Linked DNA regions of Homo sapiens: region 1 is linked to region 2. The links come from fine-mapping of genetic effects on gene expression. A gene starts in region 2. The other region holds a variant in brackets. All regions are shown on one strand. Distances are from middle to middle. Region 1 overlaps PYGL (glycogen phosphorylase L). Region 2 holds the start of PYGL (glycogen phosphorylase L).

Region 1 (13,541 bases), 19 kb before region 2:
GGAGCCAAACTTGGAGGCTTTGAAACGGCGGATGATATCTTGCAAGGTTGCAGCCACCACAAAGTATTCCTGCTTCAATCTTAGCTCCTTCCCTTCAAAAAACTTCAAGCCAGAGAGATAGAATAAAAATGGTTCATATTGTAGGTGTGGCCAAAATGTGACTGGTGTCTCCTGCACTAGGAACTTTAAGACTAAGGCCCATTGGACATCTGCTGAGGGGTGGTGGTTTGAATGCCAAACTGTGAGCCTTTGCTCTTTCCTGAGACCCCATGAAAATGGCAGTGAAAGGATTCTCTAAAGGCATACAGATAAAAGATAAAGAGGTTGGGATAAAGACAATAGCAACAACCTTTTAGAGGCTGAAAAACAGATGCATGAGTGGTAAGTGATTCAGAAGATCCAAGACAGCCAAATCCTGACCTGGTAGTGGGGAAAAGCCAAAAAGCAACTCAGTGTGTACATTGGAGCTCCCCAAGGCTCAGGAATTGGTAGTACCAAGTACTGGGAAGCAGGGAAGAAGTGAAGGAAAAGGTTAATGACAGCCTGAGGACACTTGGCCTCCAACCTTATCCCCAGTTCCTGCAGCTGAGCACAACCAGCACATGACCGCCCTCCTGCTGGCAGGCAACGTATCAGGAAGCACTGGCAGCCATGGACCGTGTGGAGAACCACAACTAGCTGAGAATGCCCTACATGACTGCGAGACAGGATTGCAGCCAGGCCATGGTGTGCAGGGTGGAGGCCTTAGAGGCCATGATGGTGGCCAGCTTCCAAGTTCCTCCCACATAGATTTGCTGTCGGTCACCTCAACCGTGTAAATGTCACCAAGAAATGGTCCTAACCCTGAGCCATCACACTTCGATTTTTATAGATCATGGAGCTGCCCTGTCTTTACCTGGTCGTAGAATTAAAAACTGTAACTTCTATTAAAAATGTGAGCCTTGACTAATATCCAGAATCTACAAGGAACTCAAACAAATCAGCAAGAAAAAAAAATCCCATGAAAAAGTGGCAAAGGACATGAATAGACAATTCTCAAAAGAAGATATATGAACAGCCAACAAACACATGAAAAAATGCTCAATATCACTAATTGTCAGGGAGATGCAAATTAAAATCACAATGAGATACCACCTTACTCCTGCAAGAATGGCCATAATTAAAAAGTCAAAAAACAATAGGTGTTGGCATGGATGTGGTGAAAAGGGAACACTTTTTACACTGCTGGTGGGAATATAAATTAGTACAGCTACTATGTTAAACAGCATGGAGATTCCTTAAAGAACTAAAAGTAGAACTACCATTTGATCCAGCAATCCCACTACTGGATATCTAGCCAAAGGAAAAGAAGTCATTATGTGAAAAAGACACATGTACACACACACGTTTATAGCAGCACAATTCGCAATTACAAAGATGTGGAATCAGTCTAGGCGCCCATCAACCAACAACAATATGTGGTATATATATACCATGGAATACTACTCAGACATAAAAAGGAACAAAATAATGTCTTTTGCAGCAACTTGGATGAAGCTGGAAGCTATTATTCTAAGTGAAGTAACTCAGGAATGGAAAACCGAATATCGTGTGTTCTCACTTGTAAGTGGGAGCTAAGCTATGAGGATGCAAAGGCATGAGAATGATGTAACGGACTTTGGGGACTTGAGGGATAAAAGACAATTTATTGGGTGTACACTGCTCAGGTGACAGGTGCGTAAAATCTCAGAAATTACCACTAAAGAACTTATCCATGTAACCAAAACTACCTGTACCCCTAAAACTATTAAAATTAAAAATTTTAAAATGATGAGCACCCCATCCCCCAAATGTAAGCCTTGGACCAGAGTCTTATTAAAACTAATGAATATGAGCATAGAGGTCTGCATATAGAATATCTGGGGCTCTGAACTCCCTAATACTTAAAAGTATAATCACTGACCTATGCCAGGGCTATGGCCAAGTTGAGGAGAAGAATGAATTTGTTATTGTAATTACAGTATAAAAGGATTTTTCAGCTTACTCTTAAAAACAAACAAACAAACAAACAAACAAAAACATGATCCTGAGAACTCCCTTTTACCCAACAAATCTAGTCAATTTTTTACCCCATGCTAACTTAGTATATATTGTCAGTTACTGCAGACGATTATTTCCCAGTAAAATTAGTTTTGGTCCTTACTGAAGACAGGAGGATGAATTTCAAGCCCCTGCAGACTGGGTTTAGGTTGGCAGTACGGTCCCAGACTTGGAAGAACTCTTACTTTGACCCTGACATAGAATAACTTTTTGCTTTTGGGTTAGAGATTTCTCTGAAATGTACTGAAGCCACAATGTTTTCCACAAAGGAATAATAGCATATACCATTAGGTTCCTAAAAATGCTCCAGCAAAATCCACATAATCATCTTCCTTTCTGAGAGATTATGATTTAACACCAGGTGGACATCTGGTATTAAGGACTATTTATGTCCTAGTCCCCCCAAGATCCTTGTCTTCTGCCATCTTTGTAAAGCAGAGTGCTAATTTTATTGCTTCTGAGACCACTTTAAAAAAATCATTACAGCTTCATGAAAATGATTTTACCCATAGAGAAGTTTAGAGTTACATATATTTAAAACAACCAAGAATCAATAGCAGTTATCTGAGATCCAGTTCCAAGTGGTGTGTGTGTGTGTGTGTGTGTGTGTGTGTGTTTTGAGAGAGTCTCACTCTGTCACCTAGGCTGGAATGCAGTGGTGCAATCTCGGCTCACTGCAATCTCTGTCTCCCAGGCTCAAGCGATTTTCCTGCCTCAGCCTCTCCAGTAGCTGGGATTACAGGCGCCTACCATCACACCTGGCTAATTTTTTTGTATTTTTAGTAGGGACAGGGTTTCGTCATGTTGGCCAGGCTGGTCTCGAACTTCTGGCCTCAAATGATTTGCCCGCCTCAGACTCCCAAAGTGCTGGGATTACAGGCATGAGCCATTGCACCTGGCCCCAAGTGTTTTTTTTTTTTAACTAAGCTATATTTACAATAAAATTAGAATAATTGACTATAAGAAAAAGATACAAGTCAGTGGCAGAAGAAACAGATGTTTGTTCATGGGTCTGCCCCAGGGTCTCTAACTCCATCTAGCATCAGGGCAGAGGACCAGAAAGAGCCTAGTCAGTGAGAGAAGAGGCGAGGCAGAAAATATTCAGTGACTTCTGACTTTGCAGATAAAATTTCTATCTGGAAAGGAGGCAGTGCTTCACCAGTGATTTACTTCATCTCTTATATCCAGGTTTTGTTTTAAAATACATCTCAATAACTTCCCAATTAGTGATGGGGTCACTAATCAAGGGCAAAATACCAATTCTGATTTCATGCACTATACAGATTTGTTTTCCTTACTTGGTTGGGAGGAGAAATCTACACAATTCAGGAAGAAATACGGAGCTTGTTCTGCACATGGAAAAACATCAATATTAAATGTGTTTTATAGGTTACTGAACAGGCTCTTGTGAAATAAGCTGCCTCTGTTGCCACTAAGAAAGCAACCTTGATCACTCACATTGTCATTGGGATAGAGGACCCGGGAGATGTTCTCGGCCAGGTTTCGGTCCAGCACAGCCTGAATGTAGTCTCCAACATTAACTAGGGGAAAGTTAGAGAAACAATAAATAGAGAAACCAGCCATTGTTGTTGGAAACCTCTTGATCTCACTGGCTCTGTGCTGTGTGTCATGTGGGATTCCTAAAATTCCTAAAAATCCCAAAGGATTTCAACACACCGTCATGCTGGACTTCACATGAGAATTGCTTTAAAAATGCCCTCCCTACTTCCTCCATACAATGCCTGCTTAGTCAGTGAAGTTCAGATCAGAAACTCAAGGCTTTTTTGTTTGTTTCAAGCTCAATTTGGTTCTAACTACCAATCAAAAAGATTAAGCACACGCATAAAGAAACCAAGGCCTGTGCTGTACTCACAGTCTCTGAGGTTAAAGTCATTTGGTGCCCGAGCAGACCAGAGGCGCATGGTGTTGACAGTGTTATTCATGTAGCCGGGCACGGGGGTGTCATATGGCAGAGCCAGGACCACCTGTGGGATTAAACAGAAGCAGCTGCTCATTGTTTCCCAAGTGTGATGACATAGGTTGAACAAGGGGCTGGGAGACTGCAATGGAATTCTATTCCTGGCTCCATTACCAACTTAAATTGTGTGAGGCCTAAATGGAGAAGAGGGTCTCAGGGCTGCAGAGGGTATTAGAGGAACATGTGGTTCCTCCCCGACCTGGTACAATCTAGTGACTGAAACCATCCACACTGATGGTCCTTTACAGTATTTCTATGTTGACTCTCCATGTGCCCTTGCCCTGATATAAATGCAGTGGAATGGAATGATATGGTATTTGTATTCAAAAAAGTTTATCTTTTTTTTTTTTTGAGACGGAGTCTCACTCTGTTGCCCAGGCTGGAGTGCAGTGGTGCAATCTCGGCTCACTGCAAGTTCACACCATTCTCCTGCCTCAGCCTCCCGAGTAGCTGGGACTACAGGTGCCCGCCACCATGCCCGGCTAATTTTTTTGTATTTTTAGTAGAGACGAGGTTTCACCGTGTTAGCCAGGATGGTTTCGATCTCCTGACCTCGTGATCCATCCACCTCGGCCTCCCAAAGTGCTGGGATTACAGGCGTGAGCCACTGCACCCAGCCAAAAAAGTTTATCTTTCATGTTTCAGATAAAGCCATTGCTCTAATAATAATAAAATATGATATGCAAACAAAGTGACATTGTGAATCTGTACCCACCAAAAAATAGCACTTAGAATATGTTTTGCATAGGTTTTTCAGTGATCTGATTTCAAGTATGATGAAAG[T/A]AAATGGAATAGGAAATTTATGAAGCTATAACATCTCATATAATATTTAAAATGCTATGCTAGATTTTTAAAGTTGCATAAGGAGTTATTTTAGTGATTCCTACAGTGATCTGCCAAATCAGCTGATAATTAGCTGAGTTGAGTCTAAGAGGTAAGCTTTGGAAAATCTAGCTTGATCTTTGTGACAGTCACTGAAATAGAGAAGAGGAAGATTAACTATGTTTCACAGTGCATCGAAAATTCAAGTGAGAAATCATTCATTTTTATTCCCGGCCTCATCAGAGTCAAGCTCGAAGGAAGGAGAATGACAGAATAATTGAACTGGAGGATGCTGGATCTCATTTAGTGCAACCCACTTATTTTGGACATGAGGGAGCTGAAGCTGAGAGAGAAGTGACTTGCCCAAGATCACAGTCATGGCAGGATTGAAACTTAAACACGCATCTCTTTAATTTGGTCTGCTGAATTGTGAATGAATGAAGCATTATGGCCCATATCAATCACATATACTCAGTCATACTTTCGTGATCACCGCGACCTCAAAGTAATAAATCACCCTCATTTAAATATCTTTCATTAAGAGATAAAAGTCTCTGGACTTTTAAAGCAAGTTGTAATCAATCAGGGAAAGTCATTTGCAGGCTGGGATTGAGTCTCGGTTCAAACAAGAGTTGGACCCTTCTGACCCTTGAAGCATAATTAAGGCAGCCCAAGAAGTGCACAGCTTAGATCTTCTTTCAGAGAACCTCAAAGAGGACTTGCTCCCTCAGAGCTCACACCAAAGCTGCGCTCTCTGGGACACTCCATGTGGCTGGGACACTAGGGCCGAGACTTCTCTAATGGGCAATCTTTAGTGTCAGGCTCCATCAGCCTGGCCACTTGCTCAGAGTGGCACTGTGGTCTGAGGCTCTCCCTGAGAATGCTGCTTCTTTCCCCTTCACTTTTCACAGGTGGCACACCTGTGTCACAGTCTGAAGCCTTCCCACCTCATCCTGCTCCCTCTCCCCTTTGTCTTTCATAGGCATCCCCCAATATGTCACTTGCACTTCTCATTCTCTCTGGTGTCTGTTTCCTAGAGGACCTAAACTGACACGTGACTGTGTCATTTGACTTTATTGGAAGCCATCCCATGCACGCACAGAGCACATCTGGACTCATGCTCTGACATCACTGGGTACCAGTTTGGGGTTAATTCATGTGATGACTTCAATCTATGAGGCTAAGTTGCATGGCTTGGGCCAGCTCACTTATATTACCTCTGCCCCCTAACCTTGCCTCTGTTGGCCCAGAAACACACACTCTCTCTAATTGAATTTCTGGATACATTATGACAGTATCTAGAGGTGTTTTGTAAATGCAAGTTAGCTCAGCAGTGGGACCCACAGTGTAAATAAAATGCTTCCAGGATTGATTGTGTAAACTGCAAACTTTTATTTTTATTTTATTTTATTTTATTTTTTTTGAGACAGAGTCTCACTCTGTTACCCAGGCTGGAGTGCAGCGACATGATCTCAGCTCACTGCAACCTCCACCTCCTAGGTTCAAGCGATTCTCCTGCCTCAGCCTCCCATGTAGCTGGGACTATAGGCATGGGCCACCACTCCTGGCTAATTTTCGTATTTTTAGTACAGATAGGGATTCACCATGTTGGCCAGGCTGGTCTTGAACTCCTGACCTCAGGTGATCTGCCCGCTTCGGCTTCCCAAAGTGCTGGGATTACAGTTGTGAGCCACTGCACCCAGCCAGGAATGACATTTCAAATTATTCAATTTTGCTATCAACACCTTAATATAAAACCAAAGAGGTAAGCATGCTGGTTACTATAGAACTGACAATTTTCTGGCAAAAAAAAAAAAAAAAAAAAAAGAACTGACAATTTTCTGACAAAGCTGGTTGCAAAATGACCCTTATAAAAGTCACTCCTCTCTTGGCCTCAGCTCCTTTGTCTCCAAAATGACTGGGCTGCGCTAAGAGAAGTAACAGATTTATTTACAAAAATATATTCTATTATTCAAAACACGACATGCCCTATACTCAATATCACCACTATATGCTACATAGTCAATGTATTATCTACTGTACTAAATACTATACAAAACGCTGGCTATACGAGCACTCTGAATACTTGAGTGTCAATCCACTTGGTCCCGGTGTTGGTGTGTTCTACTTTTCCATAGAAGTGCACAGGCAGCATGAATTCTGGGCGGGACTTCTCCCAAGGGTTTCCATATCTGAGCCAATCATCTGCTTCTTCTACCTGCAAAAGGATACAGTATTGCTTAGAATTTATTTGTCAGGAAATATGAACCTAGCACTTCAATTATATTATATTAAATTTAAAACATCTTTAACTGAAACAACTTATGAATACTGAGTACTGTTTTGTAACTTTTTTACAGCCTACATCAACAATAATACTCGCTAATACAGCTCTAAATATTTTATATGTATTACTGCATTTAATCCTCTTTTAAAGATGAGGAATTGTAACTGCTCAAGGTCAAATAGTAAACGGTAGAGATAAGATCTCAAGGTCAAACAGTAAACGATAGAGATAAGATCTGCCCTTAGGTCTCTGTGTTCCAGAGCCTCTGTCTTAACGTCTGTGAATCCAATTGTCCAGCTTCAGCTAAAGACAGACGCCTTACAGGGATGTTTATCGTTGGATACCTGGGCCTGTTGAGTCCTACACAAAGGGTTCAGTCAAGATTCTTGTGGCTAGAATATACAGAATCAGTTAGAAAATGCTACTTACAGAACACTCTTTTAATCAAGCTTATTGGTATAGGTACAGAACATTATTGCATTATGTAGTCTTTGCTTATCTCAATCCTTATGTAATTTTGATTTGATAATGAACTATAGATTATAGTTTATTTTGAAAATAACATATTCCAAGAGGTAATGAACTTATTTTATTGACAATTTCAATATTTTCCTAGGTATTTATGTCAATTTATAACAAAATATTTCTTATATACGATTTTAAACTATGGTTTCTATTTAGGATATCCTGGACATCAAATACATTTTCATTTGCAACAAACAAACAAACACATCAAAATAAGAACACCACCACCACCAAACACATTGGAGGGGGATGTATTTTTAAATTATTGAAACCTTTAAAATATGACACATACAGTTGTGGATTGCTTAACGACAGGGATACATTCTGAAAAATGTGTTCTTAAGCAACGTTGTCATTGTGCAAACATCACAGAGTGCACTTACACAAACCCAGATGGTGCTGCCTACTACACACCTGAGCTATATGGTATGGCCTCCTGCTCCTAGACTACAAACCTGTACAGCACGTTACTGTGCTGAATACTATAGGTAATGGTAACACGATGGTGTTTGTATATCTAAACATAGAAATAGTACAGTAAAAATTCAGTATAAAACATAAGAAATGGTACACCCACAGGGGGCAGCTCCATTACCATCTTATGGGACCACTATTGCATATGTGTTGTATTGTTGACTGAAATGTCATTATGTGGTGCATGACTATACATTAAAAAATGGAATTGTGTTCTGGCCAGAAGGGGGTAAACAAAGCAGCTTTGTCAATGAGATAATCTCCAATATGGTTATTTTACCTATTTGATACCTCATATTCACCTCTTAGAAAACTCAGCTTTAGTTTTAGAAGATACTGCTTAAGAATTACAACACAATGTTGGACATCTCATGATCACCTAAACATGAGTGTAATGCCTGTCTCAGGAACAGTGTGAAGAGACAAAAATAAACACAGCCACTATCTTTTGAGAATTTAGACTAACCATTATTGTCAACAGCCAGAGAAATGAATACAAGTTCACTTATTCAAATTTTGATAGTGTTGTTTATCAAGAAAGCCAGTAAGCTTCCCACTAATATTAACTACCAGTGTAATGATGAATGGAAATGGGACTCATAGCAACAACATCTTTAGTTGGAAGAGCTAGGAGTTAGAGAGCCACTGGAGGAAGGAGGAGGTATCAGATGCAAGATGAACCCTAGGGAAGGCTGGAGAGAGATCTGAGCTCGTCAGAAAGTCACATCTTCTTAAAATGCAGATTCTCAGTAGGTCTGGGGAGGGGCCTGAAATTCTGCATTCCTAATAAGCTCCCAGGGGCTCCTGATTCTACTGGTCCCTGAACCCCACAAAGAGCAGCCAAGAGCTACAAGGCAATGCAAAGTCAATAACTGTAATCTGTAATTCAGAATTAAAAACTAAACTTCCGCTATCCCAGTCATAAGAGAACAAAGATAAAATTTTTTTGAGGCAGGAAGGTCACTTGATCCCAGGAGTTTGAGAGCAGCCTGGGCAACATAGTGAGAACCTATCTCTAAAAAAAATTTAAAAATTAGCCGAGTGTGGTGGTGTGCACCTGTAGTCCCAGCTACTCAGGAAGCTGAGGTGGGAGGATTGCTTGAGCCCGGGAGGTCAGGGCTACAGTGAGCTGTGATCATGCCACTGTACTCCACCCTGGGTGACAGAGTGAGACTCCATCTCAAAAAATAAAGTAAAATAAAATAAAATAAAATTTTAATAAAGAAACAGTTGAAGTTTGCCAGTTGTCAAGAAGCTTGTTAAAGAGTCCATTAACTTGGCCAGGCGTGGTGGCAACGCCTGTAATCCCAGCACTTTGGGAGGCCGAGGTGGGCTGATCATGAGGTCAGGAGTTTGAGACCAGCCTGGCCAACATGGTGAAACCCCGTCTCTACTAAAAATATGAAAATTAGCCGGGCATGGTGGCGGGCACCTGTAATCCCAGCTACTCAGGAGGCTGAGGCAAAAGAATCACTTGAACCTGGGAGGCAGAGGTTGCAGAGAGCAGAGATTGTGCCACTGCACTCCAGCCTGGGAGACAGAGTGAGACTCTGTCTCAAAAAAAAAAAAAAAAAAAAAAAAAAAAGAAAAAGTCCATTAACTTGGGTTCATAACTAGAAATGCTATAATAAATAAAATGATGACATCAACAAAGGATCAAAACATCTTGACTTACAAAATACTTTATGCTGCACTTAGGCAAGGGCCAATTTTGGGTTTTAAAATACTGAGCAATGTGAACACTGCTTCCTGTAACAGGAAAGAACCATAGGCCTGTTTGCCTCATTTCAGCATGCAGGGCTGTTGTAAAACCCATCTGAAGGTATTGTATGAAATAGGAAGACGATGAGGCAGAAACAGTTTTCCTCTGAAAACTCATGACCATGGGAGAACTGATGACATATTTTTTTGCTGAGAAATGCAGCAGGATGATATACTGTCCTGCCCCCAAGAAGCCTGAAATGCTCAGATAAGAGAGGATGGGCACTGAACTTCCTCCTGTGGGCTCAGTCCCTGACTCCTGTGGAAGTCAGAGGTTGCATTTACTCTTTTTATTTTTATTTTCATTTTCTTTGAGACACAGTTTTGCTCTGTCGCCCAGGCTGGAGTCCAGTGGCACAATCTTGGCTCACTGCAACATATGCCTCCCAGATTCAAGTGATTCTCCTGCCTCAGCCTCCCAAGTACCTGGGATTACAGGTGCCCGCCACCACACACAACTAATTTTTGTATTTTTAGTAGAGACGGGGTTTCACCATGTTGACCAGGCTGATCTTGAACTCCTGACCTCAAGTGATCTGCCTGCCTCGGCCTCCTAAAGTGCTGGGATTACAGGCGTGAGCCACCACGATAAGCCACATTTGCTCTTTTGAGGGTACACTCTTACATGAGATTCTTAATGCCATCAAATGTTGGTTGAATTTTTTTCCTGCCAAGTAAATGATTGGTTTTAGCTTCATGGGGCTAACAACTCGTAGGAGAGTTTATTTGCTTGCTGTTCTTTATTGTGAATCTCCCGCTGATTCAATAAAGAATTGGTGAATAATTCTATCAATTTTATAAGGCTTGTTTTTAAGGTAGATTGAGAAACAAGCGTTTCATAACAAGTTGACCTGAGTAGATCTGAGGAGGAGAGAACTATCCCTTGCTGCCTCCACTAAATCTACAGAAGCTGCAAGATGGTGATAAACCTTCTCTCTACCTTGCTTTCTTCCAATGAATTGACAAATTGATCTGTAAATTTAGGTTTCCATGTAGCCAGTGATCCCCAAATGCACTAACATGCCAATCATATGAAGGGGTAGGGGTGGGGGGCCAAGGTGGGAGAACTTTCATCTACATCCAAGTGAGCTGTCAGAGCTGTTTCATCCCAGAGGCTGCACGGGGCTGAAGAAAGCAAGCGTGGATCTGTGGAGTAAAAGAGCCAACCTGGGTGCAGGTGGCAGCTGGACTAGGCATTTCTTTAGAGGAATGACTCAATGGAATCTGTCCCAGCCAGCAGGGATGGAGAGGTCAGCCCAGGGGACTCTGTTGACTGAATTCTAAGAAATGCTCTTCTCTGCACCTGTGGGATACAGAGTCGACAAAGAACCAGTGAACAGTCATCAGGAGAGCCCATGAACTTGGCTTTCTGATGTTATAATAACTGATAAATGTTTCTGTGGCACACCAAGAATTCCACAGTGATAATTAGAAGCTTGCTGGGTAATGTGAATCACGCATGACTGGCTATTACGAACTTGGTGTGGGTGCTAAGAGGCAAGAGAAGGGTTGCAGAAGCCACTTGGATCCAGCTCCGAGATACATACTGTGAGTGCCTTTCCACCCAGGGCTTTGGTGTGATTGTGAAACTTCTGTGAGGTTGTTGCAATTGTCTTTCTCCCCACTTCCTCCTAGGCCAGCTATTTTCATAGAGGACTGTTACTGCACTCCCCATGAGAGGAGATGGTAAATATAGAATTTTAGCAACACAATTTCAGGGGGTGCACGATGAACACTCCACGCCTGCAAATCTTCCTTGAAGAGACTCAAAAATTAAAAGCCCATCAACCTTTAAAAATCTTCCCAGCATGTGGAATTTTCATCAGCCTTCTCCAAATCTGCCTTTGTAAGAACAGTGTTACGTGTTGAGTGGGGGCATGACTATACTCTGAAAAGGCCTGCTGCTTTCTTGACAGATGCATTTTGCTTTTTATGGAAATAATTTCTTTTTTATGGTATGATATATTTTATGTTTGACGGTTAAAATCCCATCCCAGTAAACAATGGAGGTGGTAAGTAAAATTATATACCCTTCTGATTCAATTTCAAGTCATAATGAAAGAAGTGATGATGGTTGATAAGGTTAGCTTTGGAATTTATTTTCTTTTATCTTATTTTATTTTATTTTATTTTATTTTTGAGACAGGGTCTCACTCACTTGCCCAGACTGGTGTGCAGTGGCACTATCTCAGCTCATTGCAACCTCCATCTCCCAGGCTTAAGTGATTCTCCTGCCTCAGCCCCCAAGTAGCTGGGATTACATGCACGCGCCACTATCTCCTGGCCAATTTTTGTATTTTTAGTAGAGACTGGGGGTTTCACCATGTTGGCTAGGCTGGTCTCGAACTCCTGACCTCAAATGATCCACCCACCTCGGCCTCCCAAAGTGCTGGGATTACAGGCGTGAGCCACTGCACCTGGCCAGCTTTGCAATATTTTGAATGAGCAAAACCTATTTGGTCTTTCTTTATTTTTCTTTTTAAAGAACACTGGAATACATGCTTTCTTGGTCTGATAGGAGAGAAAGAGATAGTTTCCTGGAACAAAGATCATTTAAAAAGAGCAAAGGTAGGTGTGATAACAGTGACCCTTCATAAAACGTAAGGGGAAAATATACCTGAGACAAAAAAAAAATTGAGATTTGTTTTCTGAGTTTCTTTTAAATCTTCCATCTGATAATAGTTAAGAGATAAGAAATGAGATCCTTGGAAATTCTGGAGTATAGTGAGTAGCGCATGGTATCCTTTTCCAAGGCTAAAATTAGATACCATGTGTTGTTTGGTTAGGTTGTGTCAAAGTGTTGGTTGTCCTGGACATGCCTGCTAAATAGGCTCTCAACATGGAACTCTAGGTTACTCCATTGGGGAGAGGAACAACCTATTTCATTTTTATAACTTTTAATGATTACAAAATACACATTATTTATGGAATCTAAAACATGTAGAAGAGTAAATAGAAGATAGTATATATATTTCTTACAGAAAATGAGATATGTAGAAGAGTACATAGAAGACAGTAAAAGTTGCCCATCTTCCAGAGACAACTTCTGTTGAAGCTTTGATGTATTTTTTTCTAGCACTTTTCCTTTATCTTTCTGGCCTTCTCTGGATAGCTGAGGTTTTATTACCCTTATAACTCTATATCCTCTACTTATAGGTAACACAATGATTTCCTATTTTGTTAAAATTAATTAAAAATATAATATGAATGGCTTCACTAATATTTTATTATAGAATAGCACAATTTATTAAAGCATCCTCCTTTTCTTAGGCAAAATTAGCATTTTATTGTGTGCTTACTAATATTAGCATTTTATTGTGTGCCAGATATTTTACATGTTTTTATAATAATTCTGTAGAGTTTGTATCTCCATTTTGCCATTGAGAAAACTGAGGTTCAGGGAAGTTTGGTAACCTAGTTGAGACAGCATACCTCATAAAAGTAATCAGGTCTCCTAAGTTGACATTAGGTCTCAAATGAGAAATTAGGACCCAGGCTTCTCTTCTACAAGATGCTGCCTCTCAGCTTTTATTTATTTGGGGGTAGCTAAAGATAAACAGCTCTGGTCCTTAGCAAAATGTGGAAGTTTGTCTTCCACTCTATCCCTAATATTCT
Region 2 (17,190 bases):
CTTAACTTAGGTCATGCCACACAAGGATGTGAATTGAGAAGCTTTGAACAAATAATAGTGAAGTAAAGACACTACTTTTGACCTAGACGTACTTTACTGGATAGATCTCCAAACTAAAAAAGAAATCACATTGTATTAAAGCCATACAGTGTGATACCATTTATTTTTTAAAAAATTAAATATTTTCTATGAATATATATATGTGTATGTGTGTGTGTAAATATGTAGAAAAAAGGTCTGGAAGATATATATTCCAGACATTTACATGTGTGTGTATGTGTGTGTATATATATATATGTGTGTGTGTGTTTGTGTGTACATATGTATATAATGTGAATGAATATGCAGAAAAAAGGTCTGGAATTCTAAATACTAAACTGTTCCCTATGACCCCCTATAGGGAGGAGCACAGAACTGGGGTAGTGATCAAAGGGGGTGCTAGCATAATAAATTTTTTAGTGTGTTAACATTTAACATACTCTTAAGTGCATAGGAAGGATCTGGTTAACTGAGTTTTAAGCAGTGTCTCTTTTGTTCAAGTTCCCATCTCTACTATTTGTCTAGAATTGATCAAACCAAAGTGCAAACTCAAGAACAAATACATCTACAACCAGGTCATACCTTGCGCTTCTTCTAGGAAGCCTGCCTGGTTCTTGCAAGCATGGTCATGCATGGCATCTGAGATGTCTTCAATCGGCCAGACAATATAATACACTCACAATGTCACTTACCAGCAAGTCTCCCAAGACCACCATTGCCAAGTCCAGCATCTTCTTCAATTTCTTCTAACTCTTCTATATCCAATCCAAGCTGGTAATGAAAGGAAAACAATATTGGAAGCAGATAAAAATTCAGGCCATTCAGAGGGACAGCCATTTCCTACAGCTCTGGGTAAAGGTATTCAGGTTTAGCTGTGTACCTAATCTAGCGTCAGCTCCCTTGCAGCTTGTTCTGGCATCAGGTACTGACTGCAGAGGCAAACTGTATGAGATGGTGCAGCTGCAGCATGGAGAAAAGTGTAAGCTCTAAAAGTCCATTATTGACTCTGTTACTTCTTACATGACCCTGGGCAAGCTACTAACTCTATGCCTCAATTTTCCTATTTAAAAAAGTGGAGGCTAACAGTACCTACCTCACTGATGATTGCCGTGAATTAAATGAGATTATACAAACAAAGCATTTAGAACTATTCTTGGGCAGATATCCCTCAATAAATGTTAGCTATTATCATTAAAAAAAATTGTGTGTGTGTGTGTACAGTAGGGTTAAAACCTCAGAAACAGTCCAGTACCAAGCTGATATTAATTGGACTGAGGGATTTTGAAAATGACCGAAAGGTCTCAGGGTCAGACGTTCCAGAATGGACTAAAGTTCATCTTTTCATGACCACAGCATATTTACTCAGTAGGGTCAAAAGTTGTCAACTCAAAACCAGTTAGTGGGTTACTGCCCTGGAGACCTGGGTCCTGACAGCAGGCAGGGAAACTGCAGTCCTGCAATCCAGCTGGATGGGGTAAAATCCTTTACTTTTCCCTGGGGTGGATAAGAAGCTGTGGGAAGCCAAATAGCATCTGTGAACTTGGGCACGGATGGGACTGATTGCCAGCTAGCTCCCTGCCCCAAAGTGCTGGGGATCACACAGCAGAGTCCACAGCACCACTGGGCACCCATGACAGAGCTCTGCAGCCCTGGAGATCACATTGGATTGCTCATTTTACGATGAAAGAATTGTTGGTCAGGCAAATGACTTGTTCCATCCTGACTAGATGCTAATCTAGCCCAGGCATGGCTAAAGGTGGCCTACTGTGAAACAACTGGGTTCTTATCTGAAGTTAGGCAACCCATGAAACTGGGTATTTTTTTTAAATGGAAAAATAATTTGCACATTTGAAGACATATGTGGAAGATGCACCAGTGCTTGAAGTTGTGCCCCCGTTTCCATGGCACCTGTTTGGATTCCTACCTGTCACACAGGTCTTGACAACTGTATCTTACGAGTTCAACCTTGGTTATGCTTCTGTTCAGTGTTAAAGGGCCTTTCAAATTTGCTCTCTGCAGATTAGAGCTTACTAGGTTCCTGGTGTAAGCCAACTGCTGGTGCTAACACTCAGAATTTTTAAATTCTAAAAACGTAAGTCTAAAGCATGATATAGGCTGGCACGGTGACTCACACTTGTAATTCCAGCATTTTGGGAGGCCAAGGTGGGTGGATCACCTGAGGTCAGGAGTTCGAGACCAGCTTGGCCAAAATGGCGAAACCCCATCTCTACTAAAAATACAGAAATGAGCTGGGCAAGGTGGTGCATGCCTGTAATCCCAGCTACTCAGGAGGCTGAGGCTGGGAGGTGGAGATTGCAGGGAGCTGAGATCGTGCCACTGCACTCCAGCCTGCGTAACAGGACGAGACTCCGTCTCAAAAAAAAAAAAAAGTATGATATAAATTTTGAGCAAGTAGACATGGATCACATCACCCTGCCTGGCTATAGGCTACTCCAAGGGAGAGATGTTATTTTCAGCTGATATTAGGGGAAGGAGAGGGAAGGGACATGGAGAGGACCTGCAGGGGTTCTTTCACAGGAAATACTCCACCTAACCCACATGTATGTGAGTTAGCTATGACCTGGTTGTAGACGTATTTGTTCTTGAGCGAAGGACACATGAGGGGACAATCCCATGGCAAAGGAAATGAAAAGTTTGAACAGTCTCTCATTTAGAATGTGTCTTTGCAAATACACATTTCTCCTTTCAACCACATCAAAAAGGTTAAGGGCTACCTGTTTTGGGTATGAAGGTGCCTGAAGCTCAGGAAAGAAAAAGTTAAATATATTCATGAAAACAACTTAGCACATTAGGGTTAAGACTTCAAGCTTCTCCTTTAAGGAGGAAGTGTATTTTACATCTCATTAAGCAACAGAGAAAGTATGACAACAGAATTTTTAAAGCTGATCATTTTCACAAATTGCCTTGATACATGAATAACAAAGTTTGATCATTTCTTAAAAATGAGATAGAAGCCCAAAGTAAAGATTGTGATTCTGATAGCAGAAGACTCAAGTACTTTTAAAAGGCTTGTTCAGACACTAATTTCTGAAATGTAATCTGTGAGGAATGCTGTCAAAGACTTTGATTGCAAAAGAAAATTCTCATGAGTCATAACGAGTTATCTAACTTTTTCTGGTTGTTCCTCTTAAATGAGAGATTACCAGTGATGTATATTTCTAAAAGTTTGTAATAGCCACATCTATAGAGGCGATTTTTCACTCTTATTTTACTTTATTTTTTTGTGCAATGTCCCCAAGTTTCCTGAAGTGCACATGAAATTTAAAGAGACAGGATGAGAGAAATCTAGGAACAATGTACCTGGTAAATGGCCTCATCACAGGCATTTTGCAGACCGAGGTTGATCATGGTGTTCTGTAATGTTCGGCCCATGTAAAATTCCAGAGAGAGGTAATATACCCTCTGAAATAAAGAAAAGAGAGATAATGTTTCCCCCAAGAGATCAACCTCACTTAACATAAAAACACAAGGTCATGTGTTAGGTCACCAATAAGAAACAAACAGGCAGGACTATGTCACCACAGGTTCGAATGAGACTCCCGTCAGAGGTGTTTGAACCAAAGTGACTCCATCTTGAATAGGAGCTGGGTAAAATAAGGCTGAGACCTACTGGGCTGCATTCTCAGAACGTTTGGCATTCTAAGTCACAGGATGAAATAGGAGGTCTGCACAAGATACAGGTCACAGAAACCTTGCTGATAAAAGGTTTTCTTTGCCTCCTTTTTAATGATTCCAAATTAGCATGGACTTAAGATATTTAAAAATATTTCAAAATCTTTTCTTTTTTTATTTTAAAGACAAAGTCTTGCTCTGTCACCAGGCTGAAGTGCAATGGTCCAATATCAGCTCACTGCAACCTCTACCTCCTGGGTTCAAGAGATTGTCCTGCCTCAGCCTCCTGAGGAGCTGGGACTACAGGCATGCGCCACCATGCCCAGCTAATTTTTCTATTTTTAGTAGAGATGGGGTTTACTCCATGTTGGTCAGGCTGGTCTCGAACTCCTGACCTCAGGTGATCCGCCCACCTCGGCCTCCCAAAGTGCTGAGATTAGAGGCGCGAGCCACTGCGCCCGGCCCCTTTACTTTCTTAATAAACTTGCTTTCACTTTACTCTATGAATTTGCCTCAAATTCTTGTGCGAGATCCAAGAACCCTCTCTTGGAGTCTGGGATGGTGACTCCTTTCTGCTAACACTCCTATAGAGATGTATGAAGGACTAAATAAAAGTGTTACTGACAACAGGTTTTGGCAAAGCACTATTTTTGGCGAAGTAATTCAGTATTTTTTACCCCCGGGGAGAAAAAAAGCAAACTCATCTAAGTAGATTCAATGTTTTGTGTTTTTTCCCTCTCCTGATCATGAACCTCATGAATAAAGCATAGGTTTTGGACAAACAGAAGTCAGACGGCCATAGCTCACCATTCATTAATAAAATATTTATAGGGCACCTTGGTGGGTGCCGGTAAGCTGAGTTGGCTATGACTATCTCAAGTCATCCAAGAAACACAAAGATTAACTCCCACACACCGCATGGGTAGAAAATATTCCTCCTTGGCTGATTACTGTAAGAAATTTTACAGTTTAATTAATTAATTAATTTATTTATTTATTGATGGATTGATTGAGACACAGTCTCCCTCTGTCGGCCAGGCTGGAGTGCAGTGGCGCAATCTCAGCTCACTGCAACCTCTGTCTCCTAGTTCAAGCAATTCTCCTTCAGCCTCCTGAGTAGCTGAGACTACAGGCGCCTGCCACCATGCCCAGCTAATTTTTGTATTTTTAGTAGAAACAAGGTTTTGCCATGTTGGCCAGCCTGGTCTTGAACTCCTAACCTCAGGTGATCTGCCTGCCTTGGCCTCCCAAAGTGCTGGGATTACAGGCGTGAGCCAAGCGCCCGGCCTACAATTAATTTTAGAATCAAATTTTTCTATAAAGTCTATTTACTGGCAAGTTCCTTATGAACAAGAAGACTACCTAAGGTTTATTGGTGTTTGTTCTTATTGAAATTGGAAATTTCTCTATTGACTTAGACATTATTTGCCTTTGACATGGTAAAAGTCAGGCAAATATCATCAGAGTTGAAGGTGAGAGGTACAAAGTTCAGACCTGCTGAAAACCTTCTTTATATACAGCACAGTTTACTAATTAAAAAAAAAAAGCACCAGTGAGTAACTTCATTGCCCCCTTTTACAATATCTTATTCTCCAATCATCTATCCTCTCTTCTCTACTAGACACAAAACAAAATGGCAAAAATCTGTAAATGCACCAATATAGTTACCTCAAATTTTAGGGATTGCCCCATTTCCATAAGATAAGAAGTAAAAAAAGAAAAAATAATAATTTGGCCAATCAAAAAAAATTGTGAGTAGAATTCAGTATAATAAAGGCGTATTATCATATTTAACATACTAGTTACACATAAATATTTAAAACAAAATATTATTTGAAAACGTCAACTTGGAAATTTCATTCTTTCCCATTTTCCTTTTATGAACAATTGAGTTCTAAATTTCACAACAAATGGTCAACATCCATGACCTAACGGGCCACCTAACACTGCTTTCCAGAACACATCATCTTCGTTTTCATCCAAGTTGTTTGAATGTCTATAATGCTGTTACTAGAACCCTCACCAGCTATTAGATACCTTCGAATGATTGGATAAAAGTACCTTCTCTGGGGCAGACATAGGCAATGGCTGGTGCTCTAGTACGTGATGACCGCTGTCACAGGTAATAGTATCTTAAGCCACAAATACCCATTTGCATAGTATTACCCAGTTTAAAAAAATCCTTCCATGTGTGTATTTTCATTATCTCTATAACCATGATGTTTTGCCTTTTTCTTTTAAGTAATCTACAAAAAGCTTGTTTATATAGTATATATTCCACACTTGCAATTGTGAGGTTATACCCCCAGGAATAATGACTACATCTGTATTAAATTTGCCTCCTTTTTAATGATTCCACATTAGCACGAACTTAAGTCTTCTTAAAAATATTTCAAAGTCTCTCTTGAGAGATATGTGGTTGCTCAGAATAAAGTAAATGAGAAAATACTTCCTTGCATGACAGACTTTATAAGGACAGGAACGTAAGGTGATTCCCTGTTTTCTCACAAATAACTTCTTAGAGGTAATCTCTCCTTATATTTGGGAATATATAAGACTTCAAAAAATAGATCTTGGCCATACTCTTACTTACTGGTCTCTAAATATTTGTTACATATGACTGATAGTAAAATATATGAGCATCTCCAATATACTTTATAAATTACATGCATGTACTATGATTACTAGTATTTTATGTAAAAAGTGGATATTTTCAAAAGGCTTGTAAAATAAAATAAAGAAGATATAACAAATATTTTTAAATTGTATGTTTTATTTTTATCCCCAGCATTAGTCAGAGGGCCTGGGTACTTCCGGGAAGACCTCTGGAACACCTGTCAATAAACCTGAGACTTGCAGGACAGGCAAGAGTTGAGCATAGAAATGTGGTAGGAAGGACACTGCAAGTGAATCGGGGGCCCAGAGTGGGGATTGGTTTGTTGGGAGAGCAAGGTGGGTACAGAGGGTAATGGAAGATAACAAGGGAAGAACAGGCCCACCTGGACTGAGAAGTGCTTTCGAATACTTGCTTAAGTTCTATGGCAGGCAAGAGGAGCCAATGATAATTGAGCAGGGGCAAGATGCGTTGCTTTAGGAAGCTTGAGCAGACCACAATGCACAGAATGAGACGGGATCATATACTCAAATGCCTTCAGGAGCTAGGCAGAGAAAATAAATGTGTAATTGAGGTCACATAAAACAAAGAAGAGTACTGGGCTAAGAAATGGAGTGTGCAAGTCCTGACCACAGGCGCTAAAAATTAAATTCCTGAAAAATGTCTTGGCCAACAAAGTATGTCTGCTATCCTTATTCAGCCTCAGGCTGCCGGTTTTACCACTTCTGGAAAGCAAAATAACCACGTGAAGTCAGCTGCAACAAATGGGTAGCTAGAGCCTCACCAAGGCAGGAAGAGATAATGGAGGAGAGCACGTCATTCAAGGGAACCTATAGAAATCAACAGAAATTGGCAAACAGTTGAACGGCAAAAAGTGAGACTAAAGTTTGCGTCTGGATTGTCAAGATGACAATGGCATGAAAACAAAAAACACAGAGGCCAGTCGTGGTGGCTCATGCCTGTAATCCCAGCACTTTGGGAGGCCGAGGTGGGTGGATCACCAGGTCAGGAGTTCGAGACCAGCCTGTCCAAATGGTGGAATCCTGTCGCTACTAAAAATACAAAAAGTAGCTGGGCATGGTGGCATGCACCTGTAATCCCAGCTACTCAGGAGGCTAAGGCAGGAGAATCACTTGAACCCGAGAGGCAGAGGTTGCAGTGAGCCGAGATTGCATCATTGCACTCCAACATGGGTGACAGAGTGAGACTCTGTCACAAAACAAAACAAAACACGGGAAGATGGGGCAGGATTGGGAGAAATAATGGTTTGAGTTTTTAACGTACTGAGTTTGAGGAAATAGGAAGATATCTAGATATGTTCACTAAACACTCAGAAATGTACGCATAGAGTTAGAAAAGGAATTCAGACTAGGGATCCATATTTGGGATTCATCTGCACAGTTATTGGAGAGCAAGGGAGGTGGGAGAGGAGCTTGGACACACCTACTTGCTCTACTTTATGAGGGCAGGAACCATCCTGTTTAGACAGACGACTGTGATGGAGTAGATATTTGATGAACACGTGTGGAATGAAACATGTTCATTGTTGTATCCCCAGTGTATCGCTATCAGAATTTACACACGTCGGAATTCCTGGCTTATATCTGCACTCACGTAGAAAAGGAGAGCCCAGTGAAGAAACTGGCCGGAGAACCAGGAAAACCATAAAGCACTGCATAAGCCACTGAAGGAAAAACATACAAGATTCTCTGGTGCTCTATGATGCTAAATGCTACAGAGGCGTGAGTGTGTGTTTCTAATATATGCTCAGTGTCCCACCCTTCCGCTTAAAATTGTTAAAAATAATTTTTAATGAGAGGCGCAGTATGGTGTACTTAGTAGCATTCCCTTTGTGTAAATAAATTTTTAAAAGATAGTGGCCGAGTGTGGTGGCTCACACCTGTAATCCCAGCACTTTGGGAGGCCAAGGAAGGAGGATCATTTGAGGCCAGGAGTTTGAGAGCAGCCTGGCCAACATGGTGAAACCTTGTCTCTACTAAAAATACAAACTTAGCCAGGTGTAGTGGTAGGAGCCTGTAGTCCCAGCTACTCGAGAGTCTGAGGCAGGAGAATCGCTTCAACCCTGGAGGCGAAGGATGCAGTGAGCCAAGATGGCGCCGCTGCACTTCATTCAGCCTGGGCGAGAGTGAGACTCTGTCTCAAACAAAACAAAACAAAACAAAACAAAACAAAACAACAAAACAGTAAATATATGTATACATAAAGTGTTTTCTAAGGTGCATTTAAATTTTTAAGGATACATTTTAGCAGTTGCTACCTTGGTGGAGGCCTAGGTCTTTGGGGTGAAGAAGAGTTACTTTCCATTTGAAAACTGTTACAGTTGCAATTTCTTACTATGAGAATTTACATTCATTTCCTTTCTTAAAAATTCCTATGGGGTTTCTTGGGCACTGGGATTATAGACCATTTTTTTTTCTTCACACCTTTACATAATTAAAAAGTTCTAATAAATGTTTATATATATTTCCCACTGCCCCTGGGATGTATCCCAATCTTTTATTCTTTCCAATATGTCTCTACCTGGCTTCTCCAGTTTCCTCTCCCAATACAGACTCACACCCGCCCTCACTCCAGCCTGCACACAATCCCTCTCCCTGCCATGTCCTCCCCAGTCCTTCCCCACTGCCTCTCGCCCTCTTCGCAAACTGTCAGGCAGAGATATTGTCCCTCTGTAGGTCCAAAATCACCCTAAGGAGGTCTCTGCTCCCGCCCCCACGCCGTGGATGGAGGTGGTCCCTGACCAGCCTTCCTCAGCAGCTCTGGGGGCAGGCCTCGGGTGTGGAAGGGCTAAGGGTCGGGGGAGTGTGTGTCTTCGGGGAGGACGAGTCCAGGGCATTGCCTGGCCCTGGGCCGCCTTTGCGAAAGACTCACGGAATTCCAGGAGCTACACCCACTCAGGAGAATGGGTGGGCGGCGCTCTACGCTTGGAGCGGGACCCTGCCCCTCCTCTGCACCACACTTAGCCACTCCCAGAGGCCTGAGACTTACGACCTTTTCCCAGCTCGGCGTTTGTCTCCCCTCCCAAAATACCAAGCTCCAGCAAGGCAAGATTTTTGTCCCTTTTGTTTAGGGCTGAGTGTCCAGGGCAGAGAATAGTGTCCGGCATACAGGACAAGAGGCCCCCGTCACCTCTTGATTAAATGCTGAGAGTCAAAGTTCCAAAAAAGTTTGTGAAGTGGACAGGCGAGAGGGGCCTGGGCTTTTGCCCACCTGGCGGTTTCCAGGGGCGGACGGCACAGTGGTTTGGGCGGGACACTGGCGGGTGGCACCTCGGAGACATGAGTTCGGCGTCTGTTGGGAGGCCTAATCTGTCCCCCAGGCTGCCCGCCCACAGCCTAGACACGTCTCCTCTGGACTTCGGGGCAAGGACCGGGTGCAAGGGACCACTCTGAGGGGTTCTCCACCTCGTCCCGCCCGGCCGCGGCCGGAGACTCCGACTCCGGGCTGGACCCCGGCCCGCCGTCCCGCCCCCGGTTACCTTGGGGCACTTGTCGTAGTAGTGCTGCTGCGTGCGGATCCAGCGCCCCACCAGGTGGTCGCGCACCGTGTGCGCCAGCGCGAAGTAGTAGTCGCGGGTGGTGGCCACGTTGCGGTCCTTGACCAGCGTGAAGTGCAGGTGCCGGTTGAAACTCTTCTTCAGCTCTGCCACGTTCTCCACGCCCACGATGCCGCGGATGCTGATCTGCCGCCGCTTCTCCTGGTCCGTCAGGGGCTTCGCCATGGCTGGGGCGGCGGGCTGCGCGGCGGGCTGCGCAGAGAGCTGGAAGTGCGGCCGGAGGCGCTGGGCTGCCGGGCAGGGGTGGAGTCCGCCCCGCCGCGCCAGCAGCTTTCAACGCGCACGAAAGTTTGGGGCCCGCCCCCTCGGGCGGTGCCGTCCCCGCTGCACTCCCACCGCGTCCCGGCCCCTGCCCCAGGCCGGAGGGCAGAGGAAGTGCCCGGCCCCTCCCGAGGCTCTGGGGCCGCAGTGGGCTCGGGGGTGGGAGACGAGGTCCAAGCGCCGGCGAGACCCCTGCCAGCCCGGGACCTGGGCTCGGAGGCTCCCTTCCGGATTTCCAAAATCTGCGGAGGCAGCATTTGTTCCGCCTCTCCCCTCTAGAGTGTGGAGACAGGAGGACGTCTGTGTAGGGAAGCACGTCGTTGGCAGACTGCTGTTTTGCCGATGTTTATTTGTTATGCCATTATGACTGTTAGGATTTCTCACCTGGAGTGGCTTCCGCCATAAGCGCCGGGATCTGGAAGGACGGCACGTTTGACTTCTGTTGTCCCAACCTCACTTGCCAGCCCTTGGCACCGCCCCAGCTTGGATCCTCAGGGCGCCTCTGTTATTTTCATTCATTTTTTTTGAGGACTCCAGGGTTCAGGTTTCTTAACTCCTGGACCAAAGTTCGCCCCGCTCGTAGCACCCTGTCTCTCATCCTTAGAGGTAGGTTACTAAGAATCAGAGTAGGTGAGGTGAAGCTCTAGGGTCATTATGCGGCAGGGGCTTTTACCTTAGGCTTCTTCGAATTACGTTTTAACTGCAGTGGAGGGTGTGGGGGGAGGAGAGGGAGAAAACAGAAGGGTATGTGTGTGGAAAATGAAGGGATTACTCACTGGACTAGTTGCCTTCTTTACAAAAAACAACCCAGTCTGTGTTACTGTGCGGTACAGGCTGATCTTTGCACCTCCACTTTGGGTGGTATTTGAATATGCGTGTTTATGTGTGCTTAAACCTTGGTAAAGGCAAACACTTGGCATTTTAGGATGTCAGAGGTTTTTTCTTCCTCATTAAGTAGTATTAATATATTATTTTAGAAACAGTCCATTGCCAGAATTAAGTTTTCTTTTTCCTTTTTCTTTTCTTTTTCTTTCTTCTTCTTCTTTTTTTTTTTTTTTTGAGACGGAGTCTCACTCTGTTGCCCAGGCTGGAGTGCAGTGGCGCGATCTCGGCTCACTGCAAGCTCCGCCTCCCGGGTTCACGCCATTCTCCTGCTTCAGCCTCCTGAATAGCTGGGACTACAGGCGCCCGCCACCTCGCATTTTTTATTTTTTATTTTTTTATTTTTAGTAGAGACAGGGTTTCACCATGTTAGCCAGGATGGTCTCTATCTCCTGACCTCGTGATCTGCCCGCCTCGGCCTCCCAAAGGGCTGGGATTACAGGCGTGAGCCACCGCGCCCGGCCAATAGTCACATATATTCTTCTAAGTTTATTTGTTTGTTGTTTTTTGAGACAGGGTCTCACTCTGTTACCCAGGCAGAGTGCAGTGGCGCGATCTGGGCTCACTGCAAGCTCCGCCTCCCGGGTTCACGCCATTCTCCCGCCTCAGCCTCCCGAGTAGCTGGGACTACAGGCGCCCGCCACCACGCCCGGCTAATTTTTTGTATTTTTAGTACAGATGGGGTTTCACCGTGTTAGCCAGGATGGTCTCGATCTCCTGACCTTGTGATCCGCCCTCCTCGGTCTCCCAAAGTGCTGGGATTACAGGCGTGAGCCACCGCGCCCGGCCAAGTTTTCTAGAAAAATCTTAGTATACTTATATTAATATATTTTGTTTTTTATAATAAACCCAAGTTGATTATTTTGAATTCACACATGGTGGTGGTGGGGGGGGGGGGGGGGGCGGGTAATGGATTAATTGATTCAGACCAAATGTGACCCTCACCATAAAAGTGAAAGTTCAAAGCTCATAGTTCTGACAAAATTTCCTGAATCCTTGTCCTCCCAGATTCTGAAGTTTGGACTTGAGCTTTTGGGGCAGAGACTGAATTGGGCCTTATGCAACTCTTGCAATACCGATGACCTGCAAAGGACAGTATGGAAGAGATGAGCATTAGAGTTTGGATCCGGATGGGGCCAGAAATACCCTGAATTAAGAGTGGGAAGGGGGGGCCCATCAAAATCATTGATCTTAAAAATAAGTAAGGCCTGTGGGGTGAAATTTGAAATAAAGCAGAAAGATAAGCTTCTTTGATTATTATATAACTTAAAAAAGTGTTTATCAGCTTTGAATACCCCCAAGATGGTCACAGCATTAAGCCAGTTATGGGTCATTCGTACATAAGTGTGAAATTAGTCACTCAGCTTTAACAGCTGGATGAAAAATAGGGTAGAGCCTAGGATGAGGGAATACCAGGTCTGAGTAGGTCTTCCTCCCAGAAAGGTCTCTGAGCAGGAGAAGGCATCATAATGTCTGGGCATTGGGGAGTGAATAATTAGGGGGCACACAAGAAGGGATGAAAGACACCAAAAGCAAGCTTACTCGGTTTCTTAGTTTTGCTTAAGACAGTTTCAAATAGATGGCTCCCAGCTCCGCTGTCTACTTTCCTGTACTAAATTCTTGTTGGAAACTCAGGGTAATGATGAACTAATGAACACACTATTTTCTTGATTCACTATCCAGTCGGTGAGCCTGCACCCCCGGCTTGAACAATTCTCTATGCAGAAAAATCATGAACTATAGAATGCTCAATATATAGAGTATGGGGAAAAACTATCCATCTCCATGTTAAAAAGAACGTGATGGAACCAGGTGATTTAGGGTGTTCCATAGACCCAGTCTTAAACGACAATGAATTACATTGCAAGACAGTTATTCCCCTTTCACTTTTCTTTAAGTCTTTCTGGAAAGTCCTTTGTGTTAACATGTTAGCATTTTTTAATCTATATTTTTAACAGAATGCAGGTACAGACTCTAAAAGTTCTTGAAGTTTTAGCATCTAACTAGAATTTAATACAATTATCTTCCATTTATGGTAAATGATACTTTTTCAGTTGACATTCTGATATAAACTTTGTTTCATCTGCTTGTTCTGTGCTAGTCTAGGACACTGAGGCCTTGAGAGGTTAAGTTACTTGACTAAGAAAATTAATATCTTTAAAAACCTTTCCTTTAGCCTCTCTTGACCAGAAAGAACCAGAAACTATGGATCCCTGAAAAAGTATCAGATTTCAGTGGCTCACATGTTTATAGCAGCCTTACTCACAATGGCCTATATTATTCCTGCTTCTCATCCACTGCTTCCCCGTGGCTGCTGTAACGAAATGGCGTTTGTAAGTAGCTGAACAAACAGTCCAGAACTCATAGGACAAGTGTAAGTTTCCCACTGTTGGAAATACAAAAAAACATGAGAAAGTAGTGTGTTAGTTCGGGTCTTCAGAGAAGCAGAAGCTAAAACAGGATTAAACATGTTAAGATTTTTTACTGGGGTAAATGCTTGTGGGAGGGAAAAACGGGGAGTGCTAGCCAGAGAGAGCATCAGACTGTGATGCCAGTGTGACCTAGAGTGAAGGGGAGAGAGAGGGAAGGGTAGAAGGGCATATCTCAGACAGCCCTGTAGTCCCAGGAAGATCCAGCAGTGCTGCTGGGCAGTTCTGGAGGGCATCTGCTGTCAGGAGTCCACGGTACTCTGCTCGGTCATTGGTGGGATCATCCTCCCGGAGGCATGGCCTCTGCAGGGCTATCTGGAGCCCTGGGTCGGTTATGCTTCCTGCAGCTTGGGGCATCTATGAGGTCCTTTCTAGTGACCACCACAGAAAGATATGAGATAAACAAATACAGATTAATACCCACTATGTTTCAAAGCAGGGCCTATTGTGGTGGCATACCACTTTCAGATTATCAAAACGGCAACTAGCATTTTCCAAGGACTCTGGCAAGGCCCATAATGTGCATTACTCATTTAATCTTCTCATCAGCTCTGTGGGACAAGTTCTGTTTTTCTTTCCATTTCACAGATGAGGAAATCGAGGCTTAGAGAAGGTGAGTAGCTTGCTCAAGATCACCTCACCAGTAAGTGATGGAAGAGGTTTTCAAATCCCTTAATGTTGTTTCTCCTCCCCTGAAACAGGATTTGTGATCTGTTAAGTAAACCTGAATTCTGACTGCATCTCAGCTAACCTATTACCCTACTCACTTGTTTTGTTTTGTTTGTTTTTTTTTGAGGCGGAATCTCGCTCTTGTCACCCAGGCTGGAGTGCAATGGCGCCATCTTGGCTCAGTGCAACTTTTGCCTCCCAGGTTCAAGTGATTCTCCTGCCCCACCCTCTTGAATAGCTGGGATTACAGACGTGCGCCACCATGCCTGGCTAGATTTTGTATTTTTAGTAGAGAGGGGGGTTTCACCATGCTGGTCAGGCTGGTCTCAGACTCCTGACCTCAGGTAATTCACCCGTCTCGGCCTCCCAAAGTACTGGGATTATAGGCGTGAGCCACCGCGCCCGGCCTGTTTTGTACTGTTTATTGGTTTTTGACCATCTTCTAATCAGTTCTGCAATCTAGGGAAATGCCAGAGGTCCACAGTGGCCCCACAGACAGGTCACTAACACTCTGGAAAGGGGTGGTGTAAACCATGGGCTGAGCTTTATGCTCAATGAGGGAATTTGAGTACACTGCACTCAGCATATTTAATGTATGAATCTGTTAACCAAGGTTGTTATCCAGGCTCCGCTGTTTCAAATATTTAGAAAGATGACTGAGGGCCAGGTGCGGTGGCTCACACCTGTAATCCCAGCACTTTGGGAGGCCGAGGTGGGTGGATCACGAGGTCAGGAGATCGAGACCATCCTGGCTAACATGGTGAAACCCCGTCTCTACTAAAAAATACAAAAACAATTAGCCAAGCGTGATGGCGGGTGCCTGTAGTCCTAGCTACTTGGGAGGCTGAGGCAGGAGAATGGCGTGAACCCAGGAGGCGGAGCTTGCAGTGAGCTGAGATCGCCACACTGCACTCCCAGCCTGGGTGACAGAGCGAGTCAATTCTGAGCCAAAAGAACAAAGCTGGAGGCATCACACTACCTGACTTCAAACTATACTACAAGGCTACAGTAACCAAAACAGCATGGTACTGGTACCAAAACAGAGATATAGATCAATGGAACAGAACAGAGCCCTCAGAAATAACGCCGCATATCTACAACTATCTGATCTTTGACAAACCTGAGAAAAACAAGCAATGGGGAAAGGATTCCCTATTTAATAAATGGTGCTGGGAAAACTGGCTAGCCATATGTAGAAAGCTGAAACTGGATCTCTTCCTTACACCTTGTACAAAAATCAATTCAAGATGGATTAAAGACTTAAACGTTAGACCTAAAACCATAAAAACCCTAGAAGAAAACCTAGGCATTACCATTCAGGACACAGGCATGGGCAAGGACTTCATGTCTAAAACACCAAAAGCAATGGCAACAAAAGCCAAAATTGACAAATGGGATCTAATTAAACTAAAGAGCTTCTGCACAGCAAAAGAAACTACCATCAGAGTGAACAGGCAGCCTACAAAATGGGAGAACATTTTCGCAACCTACTCATCTGACAAAGGGCTAATATCCAGAATCTACAATGAACTCAAACAAATTTACAAGAAAAAAACAAACAACCCCATCAAAAAGTGGGCAAAGGACATGAACAGACACTTCTCAAAAGAAGACATGAATAAATGCTCACCATCACTGGCCATCAGAGAAATGCAAATCAAAACCACAATGAGATACCATTTCACACCAGTTAGAATGGCAATCATTACAAAGTCAGGAAACAACAGGTGCTGGAGAGGATGTGGAGAAATAGGAACATTTTTACACTGTTGGTGGGACTGTAAACTAGTTCAACCATTGTGGAAGTCAGTGTGGCGATTCCTCAGGGATCTAGAACTACAAATACCATTTGACCCAGCCATCCCATTACTGGGTATATACCCAAAGGACTATAAATCATGCTGCTATAAAGACACATGTACATGTATGTTTATTGCGGCATTATTCACAATAGCAAAGTCTTGGAACCAACCCAAATGTCCAACAATGATAGACTGGATTAAGAAAATGTGGCACATATACACCATGGAATACTATGCAGCCATAAAAAATGATGAGTTCATATCCTTTGTAGGGACATGGATGAAATTGGAAATCATCATTCTCAGTAAACTATCGCAAGAACAAAAAACCAAACACCGCATATTCTCACTCATAGGTGGGAATTGAACAATAAGAACACATAGACACAGGAAGGGGAACATCACACTCTGGGGACTGTTGTGGGGTGGGGGAAGTGGGGAGGGATAGCATTGGGAGATATATCTAATGCTAGATGACAAGTTAGTGGGTGCAGTGCACCAGCATGGCACATGTATACATATGTAACTAACCTGCACATTGTGCACATGTACCCTAAAACTTAAAGTATAATAATAATAAATAAATAAAAAGAAAAAGAAAAAAAGGAAAAGAAAAGGAAAGATGACTGAGAACCCAGATTTATTTTACTTTTGAATTCCCTTAGTGTCTGCAGACAATGCAGCTGACTGCATTGCCATCTCTATAATTGGCTGTGACAGTGACCATTTACTCGTTACCTGAGTATATTTGGCTTGTCTTGAAACAAGCGGATGTTCCTGACACTTTCAGGTCCTGTCATATTTGATTTGCTCATTGATACAGTAGTTTGAATTCTTAGGCATAGTCCAGTGGGAGTTCCTGAAAAGATGGAAATACTTCCAGCCTGTCTTCTTCCTCTCCCTCAAATCACTGACAGCCTTCATATGCCTATTGTGGAATATGCTGAGATTGCAGAATCACTTAGTGCCTTGATTTCAACTTCTGCAAAGTAAGGACAAAGATCTCTGTCCTTCTCAGTCCATAAAATGGCTAAGTTCGGCTGGGTGCGGTGGCTCACGCCTGTTATCCCAGCACTTTGGGAGGCCAAAGCAGGTGAATCACGAGGTCAGGAGTTCGAGACCAGCTTGGCCAACATGGTGAAACCCCATCTCTACTAAAAATACAAAAAATTCGCTGGGCATAGTGGCGGGCGCCTGTAATCCCAGCTACTCGGGAGGCTGAGGCAGGAGAATCGCTTGTACCCTGGAGACGGAGGTTGCAGTGAGCTGAGATCGCACCACTTA

The links. PIP is the estimated chance that this variant, and not a neighbour inherited with it, causes the effect. A credible set is the group of variants that fine-mapping cannot tell apart.
Region 1: its variant is the best candidate, but not a certain one, in a credible set for the expression of PYGL in sun-exposed skin (GTEx, PIP 0.83).

The regions. Positions count from the first base shown.
Region 1 is chr14:50,917,004-50,930,544 of GRCh38, forward strand. PYGL (glycogen phosphorylase L) reads right to left here. Exons shown (of 20, transcript NM_002863.5): 5 at 6,966-7,097; 6 at 3,953-4,064; 7 at 3,538-3,620; 8 at 1-102. It also overlaps the pseudogene MRPL57P9. Among named protein-coding and RNA genes, the nearest start is that of PYGL, 21 kb to the right of the region's middle. The variant T/A (reference allele first, on the strand shown) is at 4,841.
Region 2 is chr14:50,934,376-50,951,565 of GRCh38, forward strand. It overlaps PYGL (glycogen phosphorylase L), which reads right to left and starts at 10,108. Exons shown (of 20, transcript NM_002863.5): 1 at 9,786-10,108; 2 at 3,361-3,462; 3 at 732-810. The coding sequence starts at 10,028. LOC124903314 (a long non-coding RNA gene) reads right to left here and starts at 8,215. Exons shown (of 2, transcript XR_007064163.1): 1 at 7,734-8,215; 2 at 6,426-6,830. It overlaps LOC400212 (a long non-coding RNA gene), which reads right to left. Exons shown (of 4, transcript NR_170195.1): 3 at 13,273-13,392; 4 at 11,915-12,089. RefSeq lists an enhancer at 8,936-9,459 and a silencer at 10,128-10,287.